Linked DNA regions of Homo sapiens. The protein of the gene in region 1 interacts with the protein of each later gene in a pairwise test. Each region holds a gene or a part of one and is shown on either strand. Other genes may lie near its edges. The genes, in order: RAB29 and CSTPP1.

What was found.
Region 2: the proteins of RAB29 (region 1) and CSTPP1 interact in a two-hybrid assay, tested with the Homo sapiens proteins (2 studies listed by BioGRID and IntAct).

The regions. Positions count from the first base shown.
Region 1 is NC_000001.11:205,767,364-205,772,652, forward strand, and holds the end of RAB29 (ras-related protein Rab-7L1), read right to left. Parts: intron 5,205-5,289; coding exon 5,133-5,204; intron 4,291-5,132; coding exon 4,109-4,290; intron 3,492-4,108; coding exon 3,370-3,491; intron 3,091-3,369; coding exon 2,979-3,090; 3' UTR 623-2,978; downstream 1-622. UniProt on the Homo sapiens protein: The small GTPases Rab are key regulators in vesicle trafficking. Essential for maintaining the integrity of the endosome-trans-Golgi network structure.
Region 2 is NC_000011.10:46,939,617-46,946,908, reverse strand, and holds part of CSTPP1 (centriolar satellite-associated tubulin polyglutamylase complex regulator 1), read right to left. Parts: intron 1-7,292. UniProt on the Homo sapiens protein: Regulator of the tubulin polyglutamylase complex (TPGC) that controls cytoskeletal organization, nuclear shape, and cilium disassembly by balancing microtubule and actin assembly.

The DNA.
Region 1 (5,289 bases):
TTCAGGCCTATAATGTTCACCAGTTGGGAGAGAATATCCAGAAGGGCTGGCTGGCTGGCCAGCCTCTAACAATGCTTGAAAAGGCAGGTAAATCCTGAGTCAGCAAATGGGAAAAGCAAGCACATTCAGTTTTTCAAAAAGGTCACGTTTCCAAGTAGTATTTGGCATGTTCCATCAAGTACTGAATTGGTACTAGGCAGATGGATCTAAGCAATTGGTATTAGTAAGTTAACAGGTAAACAGAATAATATTTACCTTCATTTTAAAAGAAGGTATTTAACCACATTTCTCACTTGTAAGTGGGAGGTAAACATTGGGCACACACATAAAGATGGGAACAACAGACACTGGAGACTCCCAAAAGTGGGGAGAGAGGGAGTAAGCGTTGAAAAAGTGCCGACTGGGTGCTATGTTCACTACTTGGGAGACAGGCTAAGCAGAAACCCAAGCTTTAGCATCACACAATATATCCATGTAACAAACTTGCACACGTACCCCTTGAATTGAAAATTTAGAAAAAGGTATTTAAAAAATAAAGTCTCCATTTCCGCAATCCTCTTGAGCTATCAGTATAAAACAGCACTTTGACAAACTCACATTAAAGGCCAATAACCACCATGAATACAAGACTTAGTTCTCATTTATTTGTGATTTTGCAGGTGTTCAAACCAATGAATGAAAATCAATTATCTCTTCATATCAATGAAATTCACTATTTCACTATTATCTTCAGAATCATAGTGATCAAAACCCTACCTGAAAATGGTAATACAAAAGAGAACTATTAATACAAGGTTTCAGAAGACTGTGCAAGTTAAAATAATTGGCATTAAAACGACACACAACAAACCACCGAAGGTTTGGTCCCTTTTCTCTCTGATATGTGGCCTCTGATCTCTTTCTTAGGGCAGTGGTTTTCAACGTCTGTGTAGCAGAATCACCTGAAAAGCTAACAGAATATATAGAAACCCAGGATTTGTATTTGTATTTAAATGTAAATACAAAAGGTCTGGGTCTCTGTATCTTTACAAAGTTCTCCAGCAATGGTTTCCAAACCAGGCTTATCACAATCACCAGGGAAGCTCTGAAAACAACAACACATTCCTAGGCTTCATCCCTAGAAATTCTGATTCAGTAGGTTTGAGGTCGGGACCCAAAAATCTTTTTCTTTTTGTTTTTTTTTTTTGGAGATGGAGTTTCACTCTTGTTGCCCAGGCTGAAGCGCAATGGTGTGATCTCAGCTCACTGCAACCTCTAACTCCCAGGTTCAAGCGATTCTCCTGCCTCAGTCTCCCAAGTAGCTGGGATTACAGGTGCCCGCCACCACGCCCAGCTAATTTTTCTTATTTTTAGTAGAGACGGGGTTTCAGTATGTTGGCCAGGTTGATCTTGAACTCCTGACCTCAGGCGATCCACCTGCCTCAGCCTCCCAAAGTGCTGGGATTACAGGTGTGAGCCACCACGGCTGGCTCAGGACCCAAAAATCTTAAAACATTTTTAAAAAATTTTAACAAACTTCCCAGGTATTCCCGACCAGCCAGATTTGGGAACCACTGACTTAGGACACTTATTTAAGGTCTATCACAGAACTTCAGGCCTCAGAGTTTAGTAAGAATATCGATAACTTTGGGTAGGTTATAAATCACCATCCTAGAGATAATTTAACAAATTAAATGGTCTAGTAGTGATTTGATACTAAAAAGCCCTGCCCAATTTAGTACTTAAATTACCTAATGATTTTCTGTCTATCTACTTTCCTCCCCCAGGCTAGGACCTGCACATAATATGTTTCCTATGACTAAGTGCCTACGTGTTCACAAAGTTGCCCCAGTGGAGGTTGTTAACTTCTCTCTTTTCTTCTTCCATTCAGATTCCCAAAGCTGTGAGGAGCAGACCTATTTCGAAGCATCACAGCCAGCTGATGTCACTTGCAGTATTATGCATTAAGACATCAACCCAGAAACCTGCAAATGGGAGACACTAGGCAATCCTATCATGAGGATTAAGCTCTTTGTGGAAGAAAATGCTTTCATTGCATGAGATAGGTAGTTTAAAAATGACTATTCTTTTTTCTTTTTTTTTTGAGACGGAGTCCTTCTCTGTCACCCAGGCTGAAGTGCGGTGGCATGATCTCGGTTCACTGCAACCTCTGCCTCCCAGTCTCAAGCGATTCTCCCACCTCAGTCTCCAGAGTAGCTGGGATTACAGACACGTGCCATCACGCCTGGCTAATTTTTGTACTTTTAGTAGAGACGGGGTTTTGCCATGCTGACCAGGTTGGTCTCGAATTCCTGGCCTCATGTGATCCGCCTGCCTTGGCCTCCCCAAGTGCTGGGATTACAGGCATGAGCCACCATGCCCGGCCAAAAAACTTGACTATTCTTGATGCCAAGACAAGAGAAACTTAATTATGACGTTAGAAGTTTCAAAAATACAGTGACTTCTGGGACACTTCTAGTAGCCAAAAATCCACAGATGCCCAGACCCCCTCCTTCTGCATTCCAGAATCAGATGTTTACATTCCAAGACAGAAAGAATCTGAAACAACGGCCTACAAGAAATTTGGGAAATGACATTTGATCTCATTTTCCTCTCAATTGGAAGTCATGATATCAATGAATATCAAATGGAAAAATAAGCTCAGAAGTAGGTGAGAATTATGATCTCTAAAACGCAGGTGCTGATTTCTAATCCTTCTCATAAAATTCCGGATCACAAATTGAGGGCTGATGAGAAGATCTTACACCGAAGGCACTAACTGGCACTAATGTGAGCCAGCAACATGTGAAAGGCTAATCCAGGAGATGCAGAAATGCACATGGGTTCCAGGTGTCTTTTCTAAGTGACAATGGGCCTCCTTACTGGACAGTAGTCAGGAGACAATTCAAATGTACTTAATAAAATTGTCAGGTGGGCAACCAAAGGGAAGAGACTTAAAAGACCTCCCAGAACTGGGATGGAAAATAAGCCAAACACTACTAGCAGCAGGACCAGCTGGAGGACTTGGTTTGTAGATTGATGTAGTCCCCTTGGGTGGACAAAGACATGATATCTTCTGTGGAATTTCTCATCATCTTTTCAATGAGGACTCTAAAAGACAAAAAATAAGCCTGAGAAGCTTATTTTGGAGGAAAAGCAGAAATGGCAGATGTAGTCTGACTTATCATCAGAGAGTATTTGGTAAAGCCAGAAGGTTTAAATGCCCCTTTGTCCCCAGTTATCTCAGGAAAGACAGTATCCCTGACCTTTAGGGGCTAGCATTCCAATGGCTCAGTCTGTCATTGTTGGCTCAGAAATAAGAAAAGAGGGTCCACAGGGCCACAGTGGAAGATGGATACATCTGCATGCCTATCAGCATGAGCTACTTACCTCATAGCCTCATTAATATTTTTGTTCTCCTTGACTGATGTTTCTGTCCAACCTGTGAAACCGTTCTCTTTACTGAACCGGTCAATCTGGTCCCGGCTCACTGCCCAAGGGGACAGATCACACTAGCAAAGAGAAAAAATAAAAGGCAGTATCATAAACTTCCTGCAACTAAGAAAGAATATGGCTCAGATACTGTGGATTTTAAACATATTTCCACCAATGGATAAGAACACCAGCATCGGAAATCTATAATCAACATTCTTCCCAAAGAAAGTCTCACCCTTGGCTGGGCGCAGTGGCTCACGCCTGTAATCCCAGCACTTTGGGAGGCTGAGGCGGGCAGATCATGAGGTCAGGAGAGCGAGACCATCCTGGCTAACACAATGAAACCCAGTCTCTACTAAAAATACAAAAAAATTAGCTGGGTGTGGTGGTGGGCACCTGTAGTCCCAGCTACTCGGGAGGCTGAGGCAAGAGAATGGCGTGAACCTGGGAGGCAGAGCTGGCAGTGAGCCGAGATCGCGCCACTGCACTCCAGCCTGAGCAACAGAGCGAGACTCCGTCTCAAAAAAAAAAAAAAGAAAGAAAGTCTCACTCACCCTCAACATCCTTTGAAGGAGGTAGAGATGATTTTGCCAACTTAAGAAGGGGAAATGGATGCCCAGAATCAGAGAGCATTTTACTTCCTTTCTAACCACAGATAGAGGCTAGGGACCATTTTCTGAGATTGGCCACATACCTTGTTGGCCAAGAGCAGGCAGGGCACCGGCTCTCCATTGGGTAGTGTGAGCTTGCTGTCTAGGTCCTGTTTCCACCTCTGGCTGTTGCTGAAGGTAGTGGCATTGGTAACGTCAAACATAATAACACAGGCAGAGGCATCCCGATAATACAATCGTGTCATAGAGGTGAAGCGCTCCTGCCCTGGGGAGAAAGGGGAGAGTTCTCAAGGTGACCCAAGAGCCGGCCTCTCCCCATTCCTTGTAGAAGAGGGCAGTAAGCATATGTGTCAGATGGGGCCACTCACTTTCCCCCTCTGACTCTTGGTTTTCTATCCCATAAAGGGATAATGAAGCCCAATTATTTCCAAGGCAGATTCCGCACCCAGATTGCTCCAGTCCAAATCCCTGCTCTGCTGCATACTATTTGACTTCGGGCAAATCAAGCTCTCAGTGCTTCAGATTTCTCATTTGTAAAGTGAAGATAAAAGCAGTCGCTTTTTTTTTTTTTTTTTGAAACAGTTTCCTGCACTCCTGTTGCCCAGGCTGGAGTGCAGTGGTGCCATCTAGGCTCACTGCAACCTCCACCTCCCAGGTTCAAGCAATTCTCCAAAAGCAGTAGCTTTTATGATAGGGTTGATGTGAGGATTAATGAGTCAGTGAATTTAAAATACTTAGAAGAATGCTTGGCACATAGTAAGGATTCACTATTTTTACTGTATCTATTTTCTGGGGATCTTGTTTTTCACCAAGGTCAGCCTTAAACCTAGAAAAAGCACCCTCCCCTGCTGTGGGAGTGTCCACCTATAGTCTGGACAATCCACCACCTTGCCAGCCCCTCCATCCACATAGAGACTGCTCCAGATCTATTCAGGGCAAAACATCTACAAAAGCTCTGCACCTATTCAGCTCATGTGTCCTCAGAGCAGCTCAATCATTCCAGCTTCAGAAAAACAATTTCTGGCTTTGCTGCCCCATTTTTTCCTCAGAGCTTTCTAGTTAAATCAAAATTTCTTCCCTTGTTCCTATCTAGCCCTCCCACTTTACCTGCAATATCCCACAGCTGAAGCCGCACTATCTCGTAGTCAGACCACTGGAGAACCTTCAGAGCAAAATCCACTGAAAATATATGTACATTATACTTTAATAAAATTTCACTGTAAAAAATTAATAGGGATAAACTCAAATCAAATAGGCAGTGAAA
Region 2 (7,292 bases), on another chromosome or scaffold:
AAGTAGACCATTCATTCAACAACTGAGCACTTCATTTGGGCCAAGCATTGTGCTAGATTTTAGAGAGAAAAGGCCTGCCCTCATGGCTCACATTCTAATAAGAAACAGACAATAACCAAGTATACAAGTAGGTACACAAGATAACTCTGATAAGTGCTATGAAGGACATAAATAGGATGATGAACCAGAAATAGGATAATGGATCATGTCTCTTCTGCTCTACTATTATTTTTATTTATTTACTTATTTTTGAGATGGAGTCTCGCTCTGTCGCCCAGGCTGGAGTGCCGTGGTGCAATCTCGGCTCACTGCAAGCTCCGCCTCCCGGGTTCACACCATTCTCCTGCCTCAGCCTCGCGAGTAGCTGGGACTACAGGCGCCTGCCACCACGCCCGGCTAATTTTTTGTATTTTTAGTAGAGACAGGGTTTCACCGTGTTAGCCAGGATGGTCTCGATCTCCTGACCTCGTGATCCACCCGCCTTGGCCTCCCAAAGTGCTGGGATTACAGGCGTTGAGCCACTGCTCCCGGCCTGCTCTACTATTATTTTTAAAACTTCAATTTATCTACTCGGCCTCCTAGAATTATTCATTTAGCACATATTGCATTTGTGCAAATAAAAGTGATCCCCAACTTCTGAATAGCATTTGGAATAAAGATTTTAACATTACTTGAATATATAAATGATAAACAAAGTCAAAAATTTTAAAGCTATCTTAAAACCCCAGAATAACACTGACATCACTCTGCAATTTACTTTGGAGAAATGGAGGTAGGCAAGGGTTGGGAACAACATGGCTTAGAACTTACTGGCTCTTTTTTCCCCCCAACAAAAAGATATTTATTTATTACATGTATTAAATAGGTTACAGAATCTTTGGAAAAGGAAAAAAATCTAGATCGACCTTCCAGGAACAACTCCCAAAAGGCCCATTCCAGAACTAGGCTACCAAGGGAACTGCTGTCCCTTCCATGACTGAGAAGCTGCTGACCAAACTGAGAAAAGGCCAAGATAGCTGCTGGCTCTAGAACCATATAGGTCACATACTCTTTACTTATTATACTGTCTTTTTATGTTATGGTCATTTATGAATATGTCCCATCTCCCATCTACTGTGTAAGTTTCCTGTGGGGAGGGATGCTTTATATTCATATATTCATGCCTGGCTTTATATAGAGAAGGTATTCAGGGAGGAAGAAAAGGAAGGAGAAGGGTAGGGGGAGGAAAAGGAAAGAAAGAGGTGACTTTGTGAACATGTTCATAATTATTTTATTTATTTATTATTATTATTTTGAGACAGAGTCTTGCTCTGTCGCCCAGGCTGGAGTGCACTGGCGTGATCTCAGTGGACTGCAACCTCTGCCTCCCGGGTTCAAGCGATTCTCATGCCTCAGCCTCCCAAGTAGCTGGGACTCCAGGTGCGCACCACCATGCCCAGCTATTTTTCATATTTTTAGTAGAGACAGGGTTTCACCATGTTGGCCAAGCTGGTCTCGAACTCCTGACCTCAAGTGATCTGCCCGCCTCAGCCTTCCAAAATGCTGGGATTACAGGCATGAGCCACCGCACCTGGCCCATAATCATTTCAAAGTGACCAGTTTTATGTATTATAAACCTAGTTTCCAAAGATTTAGGAAGTCAGTTTAACACCTATTTTATTTCATTTCCTTTCTGCAGCAACCAAACACTTTAAGGCCCTAAGAGAATTTCTGCTAACTTACTGTAAACAGCAATATTTCCTAGAATAGAATTGGGTTTGGAAGGCTCACTAGTTATATTCAAATAAAAATAAGTTTATCAGGATTCATTCAAAATCAAAAAATAGAATGTGTCTGGAAGTCAGACAAGTAACTATCATATGCTGTGGTATCAGCAAATACAAAAAAAATTAAGATTAGTAACACTTATCTTCCACATAGAAGGGGTCCTATGTCAGAACCTTTGCCAAGTCCTAAAGAAGTTGTATTAACCTCATGGCTGGAAGAGACTATATCAGTAACTGTTAGATGTTGTCTTAGCTCAGATACTGTGAGAAACAGACACCAAAACAGGATCAGACATGCGAGAGATGTACTGGGGGAAACGCCCATGATAGAAAATGGGAAGGAAGCCGGAGGAGTCTGGGAGAGCTAAGAGATCAAATGCAGGTGTGACCCTAATTTATTATCCCTCCTTTAGGAGGGACCCTAATTATTATCCCTCCTTTAGGAGGGAGAAGGGAGAATGAGGGACTTAGCAGTGTGCAGTGAGAGTCTTTAAGCCAAAGTCACCCACTAGAGGAGTAAAACATCTCATGGAAGTGGGTCTGTCCTGCCCAGTCATTGACTAGGAGCAGTCTGTGGAAAGTGTGACCTCAGTGTGAACAAGGTGTTAGATTCAGAGCTGGGGTCAGGAGTCAATTACCCTCCCCTCCCCAGTGTAGGAGATCTGAGAGGCACACATTCCTGGTTGCCACCAGATGTTTACGTATTTGCACAAAAATATGGTAATAACACTAGCAGCTAATATTTATTGAGCACCTACACAGGTGCTCTAACAGGATAAATGCTTACATGTATGAGGCAAGCACAATTTTTTTTTTTTTTTTTTTGAGAAGCAGTCTCACTCTGTCACCCAGGCTGGAGTGCAGTGGTGAGATTTCAGCTCACTGCAGCCTCCTCCTCCCGGGTTCAAGCAATTCTCGTGTCTCAACCTCCTGAGTAGCTGGGACTATAGGAACACACCCCCACGCTCTGCTAATTTTTGCATTTTTAGTAGAGATGGGGTTTCACCATTTTGGCCAGGCTGGTCTCGAACTCCTGACCTCAGGTGATCCACCCGCCTCGGCCTCCCAAAATGCTGGGATTATAGGCATGAGCCACCATGCCTGGCCTTTTTTAAATTTTTTGAGAAAGGGTCTCACTTTGTCACCCAGGCTGGAGTGCAGTGGTGTGAAAACAGCTCACTGCAGCCTTGACCTCCTGGGCTCAAGCCATCCTCCCACCTCCGCCTCCTGAGTAACTGGGACTACAGATGCATGCTGTTGCACCCAGCTATTTTTTTTTTATTTTTAGTAGAGACGAAGTCTCACTATGTCCCATTGGTCTCAAACTCCTGGGCTCAAGCAATCCTCCCTCCTTGGCCTCCCACAGTGCTGGGAATATAGGCGTAAGCCACCATGACTGTACTATTACCACCCACATTTTGGAGATGTGGAAACTAAGGCACAGAGAGGTTAAGTGATTTCTTCTAGGTCATACAGCTACCCAAAGTACAAAGATGATTGTCAATAAAATTCTCCCAAATGGTAGAAGTTATCTTCCTCACTGCCTGCCTCTGAGAGATGAGTCCAGTGGCAAGAAGAAATTGGAAATTTTACCATTCCCTGATCCATCCTCATTCCTCGGATGCCTCCTCATGGCAGAAATGTTAAATGAAGACACTGGAATCACTTGACCTTACTCCAGGATCCACGTATAGGTCTACACAATAGTTGGAGCCCCACTTTGGGAGTTGCTCAAAGTATTTATAGCATAGAGTTTAACCATGTGGACTTCAATTAGACTGCTGGGTTAGAATTCTGGATCCACCACTTACAACTTGTTATTTGGTATCTTTGTGTGTAGTTTCCTCATCTGCCGAATGGAGATAACAACTGAAACTATCTTCATATACATCAATATATGTAAAGCATTTAAAATGGTACCTGGTACAGAGTAAGTTCTTAATAAGTCTCGGTTGCTTTTGTTAGCTACTCATGTTTAGGGTACCCTAAGGTCAGATTATTCATATTCCATTTCACATATACGTATGAATTAAGTGTAGGAGAGTATACAATGATAGAAGGTATACAGTGATAGAAGGTAGACAATGATAGAAGGTTGACAATGATGAGTAAAACACAATTCTTGTTCCCAAGAAATTTATTTGCAAGAGCCTCATCCTTAATAAGGAAGCAAGAATTACTGCCCTTTGAACCAATAGGGGTTTTTTGGTTTGTTTTTATCTTTTTAGTGAAGAGGAAAAAACACAAGCTGTGGAATATGACAAACCTGGGTATGAACCCCTGTTTACTATGCATCATTGCCTGTGTGACCTTGTGCAAATCAATTAGCCTTTCTAAGCCTCAGCTTCCTTATTTATAAAATGAGAAGATGATATTAATAACTACTAATTGGGACCAGTAAGAGTACCCACTTCATATGGTAGTTGTGAAAATTAAATGAGATAAACCACAGTGCCAGGCATATAGGAAGAGTTCAAAAACTATAGCTTAAAAAAAAAACTACCCAATTTATTGTGATTCTTCTAAATGTCTAGTCCCCAAAGGAGAAAGGCCATCTTTGATTTCTAGAGTTATCTATTATACTAACCCACTATCAACCGTAGTGAGAATAAGCAGGTTCCATGGAAAAGAAGAGGCAACTTGGAGCGTGAGTGAAAGCATGCACCTCACCAAATTAGGTGGAGTAAAAAATAAACCTCACGCCCTCATGCTTATACTCAGGTCAGCACGTAGGTGGTATGTTTGGCAAACCTGGGACCAGAACAGGCTGCCCTTTGGCTCTAGAGAGCTCGCCACACCCAACCAGATACACAGACACACCTTCAGCCTCTGGCAGAAGCTTCCACTAAGTAGGTTTCATAAGGCTGGAAACCTTTTGCGGGTCCTACAGAGAGGGTCTATACTTATTTCATCTCCTTACCAGACTCTCCTTTCTCTCTTCAGGCCTAGGCATTAACACAATTTTTATCACTACATTCTGATGACTGCAGACATGAACATCACTAAGCTATTCTTTAGTGATGATCTTAAGATCTTAAGCCATGCAAGGCCATGATTACAGGTTCCTAATCTACAAAGTCAGTGGGGAAAGGATCAGTTTACCCAACATGATAAAAGATTGATTTCTTCACTAATAGTCAGAAAGGTAAATACAATCCCTAGCTAGCAGGGAGAAAGGGATATCTCTAGATATTCTTTGGATAGGTATCCCTGTAATTTACACCATAATCCTAAAGAGAGGTCTCCAGATACACTAACCAAGGGGAACTCAACTTTAGCTTTTGGGTTTCACTGAATGCCTAGGGCTTTCCAGTCTGCAGTTTTGTTTTCTCTATAAGTATAGTCTTCTTTAGGCTTACACATACAAGTAACTTTATAATGTATAAAAATAAAAACAAATGGAAAAATCACAGGTATTTAAAAATTTAAATCAGGAAATATTTTATTAATCTATTCTGTAGGGAGTGGTTTTAAACGGTCATTAGATTGAGGGTGAATAGGTTGGCCAGGCGTGGTGGCTCACACCTGTAATCCCAGCACTTTGGGAGGCTAAGGTGGGTGGATCACCTGAGGTCAGGAGTTCGAGACCAGCCTGGCAAACATGGTGAAACTCTGTCTCTACTAAAAATACAAAAATTAGCTGGGCATGGTGGCAGGTGCCTGTAATCCCAGCTACTTGGGAGGCTGAGACACGAGAATCACTTGAACCCTGGAGGCGGAGGTTGGAGTGAGCCAAGATCACATCATTGCACTCCAGCCTGGGTGACAGAGCGAGACTCCGTCTCAAGAAAAAAGAAAAAAAAAATTGAGGGTGAATAGGTCAAAGCAGCATGCCTCTAAGAGAGACAAATTGTAAAAGGCAGGGATAGTTCTCAACTAAAGACAAACGCATTTCAGCAGAGTGATACGGTTTGATGAACCAGGAGAAGGCAGTGAGGGGTGTGACCATGCTGAGGGCAGTATGAATGTCTAGTTAGTGGTTAGGACAAGGAATTAAGACACTTAAATATGCAACAAAGCATGAAGAAGCATTTGTATAGGATTCAATTATTAGGTGATTGGTTGGGCTTCACAAACATTGAAGCTTTTTCAACCAACCTGAGACTCTGATTCTGTTTGTAGATTCATTCTCAACACTGCCACTGAATTGGCCTTCCTGAAAACGCCATTTATGAAGAGACCACCAACTTCTATTCACCAAGGCACCAATACACCAAATCTGCCAAGCCTTTGAGACATAAAATTCAAACAGCAAACACCCAAGGAACTGAACAATGAACTAGCCTTTTCAAATATTTCATATATTCATTGAGTACTGGGTAATAAAATACATAAAATCTTTGGAAAAAAGTCTAGGCATTGCTTGACATTGATACTGTTATTCATTAGATACAAAATTGTCTGTGATATCCCCTTTTAGCTGATTAATGGATGTGGTCACTGTCTTAAGCTCTCTCTCTATATATATGTCTATATATATGTTCATGTATATATGTGTATATATATAGCTTTCAAAGACCAATCAGCCCTTAAACTTGGTAAAAAGGCACTCAACTTCATTTAAAAATGCATATTAAATCTACTCAGACTATCTGTCACTTAGATTGAAAAAAATCCAAGTTTGATGTATTTTGTTGTCAGCACAATGGGGAAACAGGCATTCTCTTTCATTGCTGGTGGCAAAATGGTACAACACCTATTAAGGGCAATCTGACAATATCTATAAGTACTTCAATGCATATGCCCTTAATCCACCAATTCCACTTTGTGGAACTTATTCTTGCAGATACACTTGCAAAGGAACAAAACTGCAGGTTATTCATTGCAGCATTCTTAGTAACAGCAAAAGGCTAAAAACAACTTGTTTACCAGTGCGGGACTGGTTAAATAAATTATTTAAATACTATATAGCTAAAAATGAATTTCATGAAGAACGAAGAAGCTCCCTACTGACTGAGAAATTACTTCGAGGCCAGGCGCAGTGGCTCACGCCTATAATCCCAGGACTTTGGGAAGCCAAGGTGGGCAGATCGCTTGAGCTCAGGAAGTTCAAAAGCAGCCTGGGCAACATGGAGAAACCCTATCTCTACCCAAAATACAAAAACTTAGCCAGGTGTGGTGGCTCGTGCCTGCAGTTCCAGCTACTTGAGAGGCTGGGGCAGGAGAATGGCTTGAACCCAGGAAGTGGAGGTTGCAGTGAGCCGAGATGGTGCCACTGCACTCCAGCCTGGGTGACAGAGTGAGACTCTGTCTCAAGAAAGAAAGAAAAGAAAAAACAAAAGAAACGGAAATTACTTCAAGATGTATTAAATGAAAAAGTATGCACTGTATACTCCTTTATGTATATAATAAACTCTGGAAAGATACACAGGAAAACAATAATAGTGGTTACTTTTGGGAGGCTGAGGATGGATGGAAACTGGGCAGATGGAGGCAAAGGGGTAGGCTTTTCACTAAAAACATCTACCTATCTATCTATCTATCTATCTATCTATCTATCTATCTATCTATGCATTTTAGAGGCAG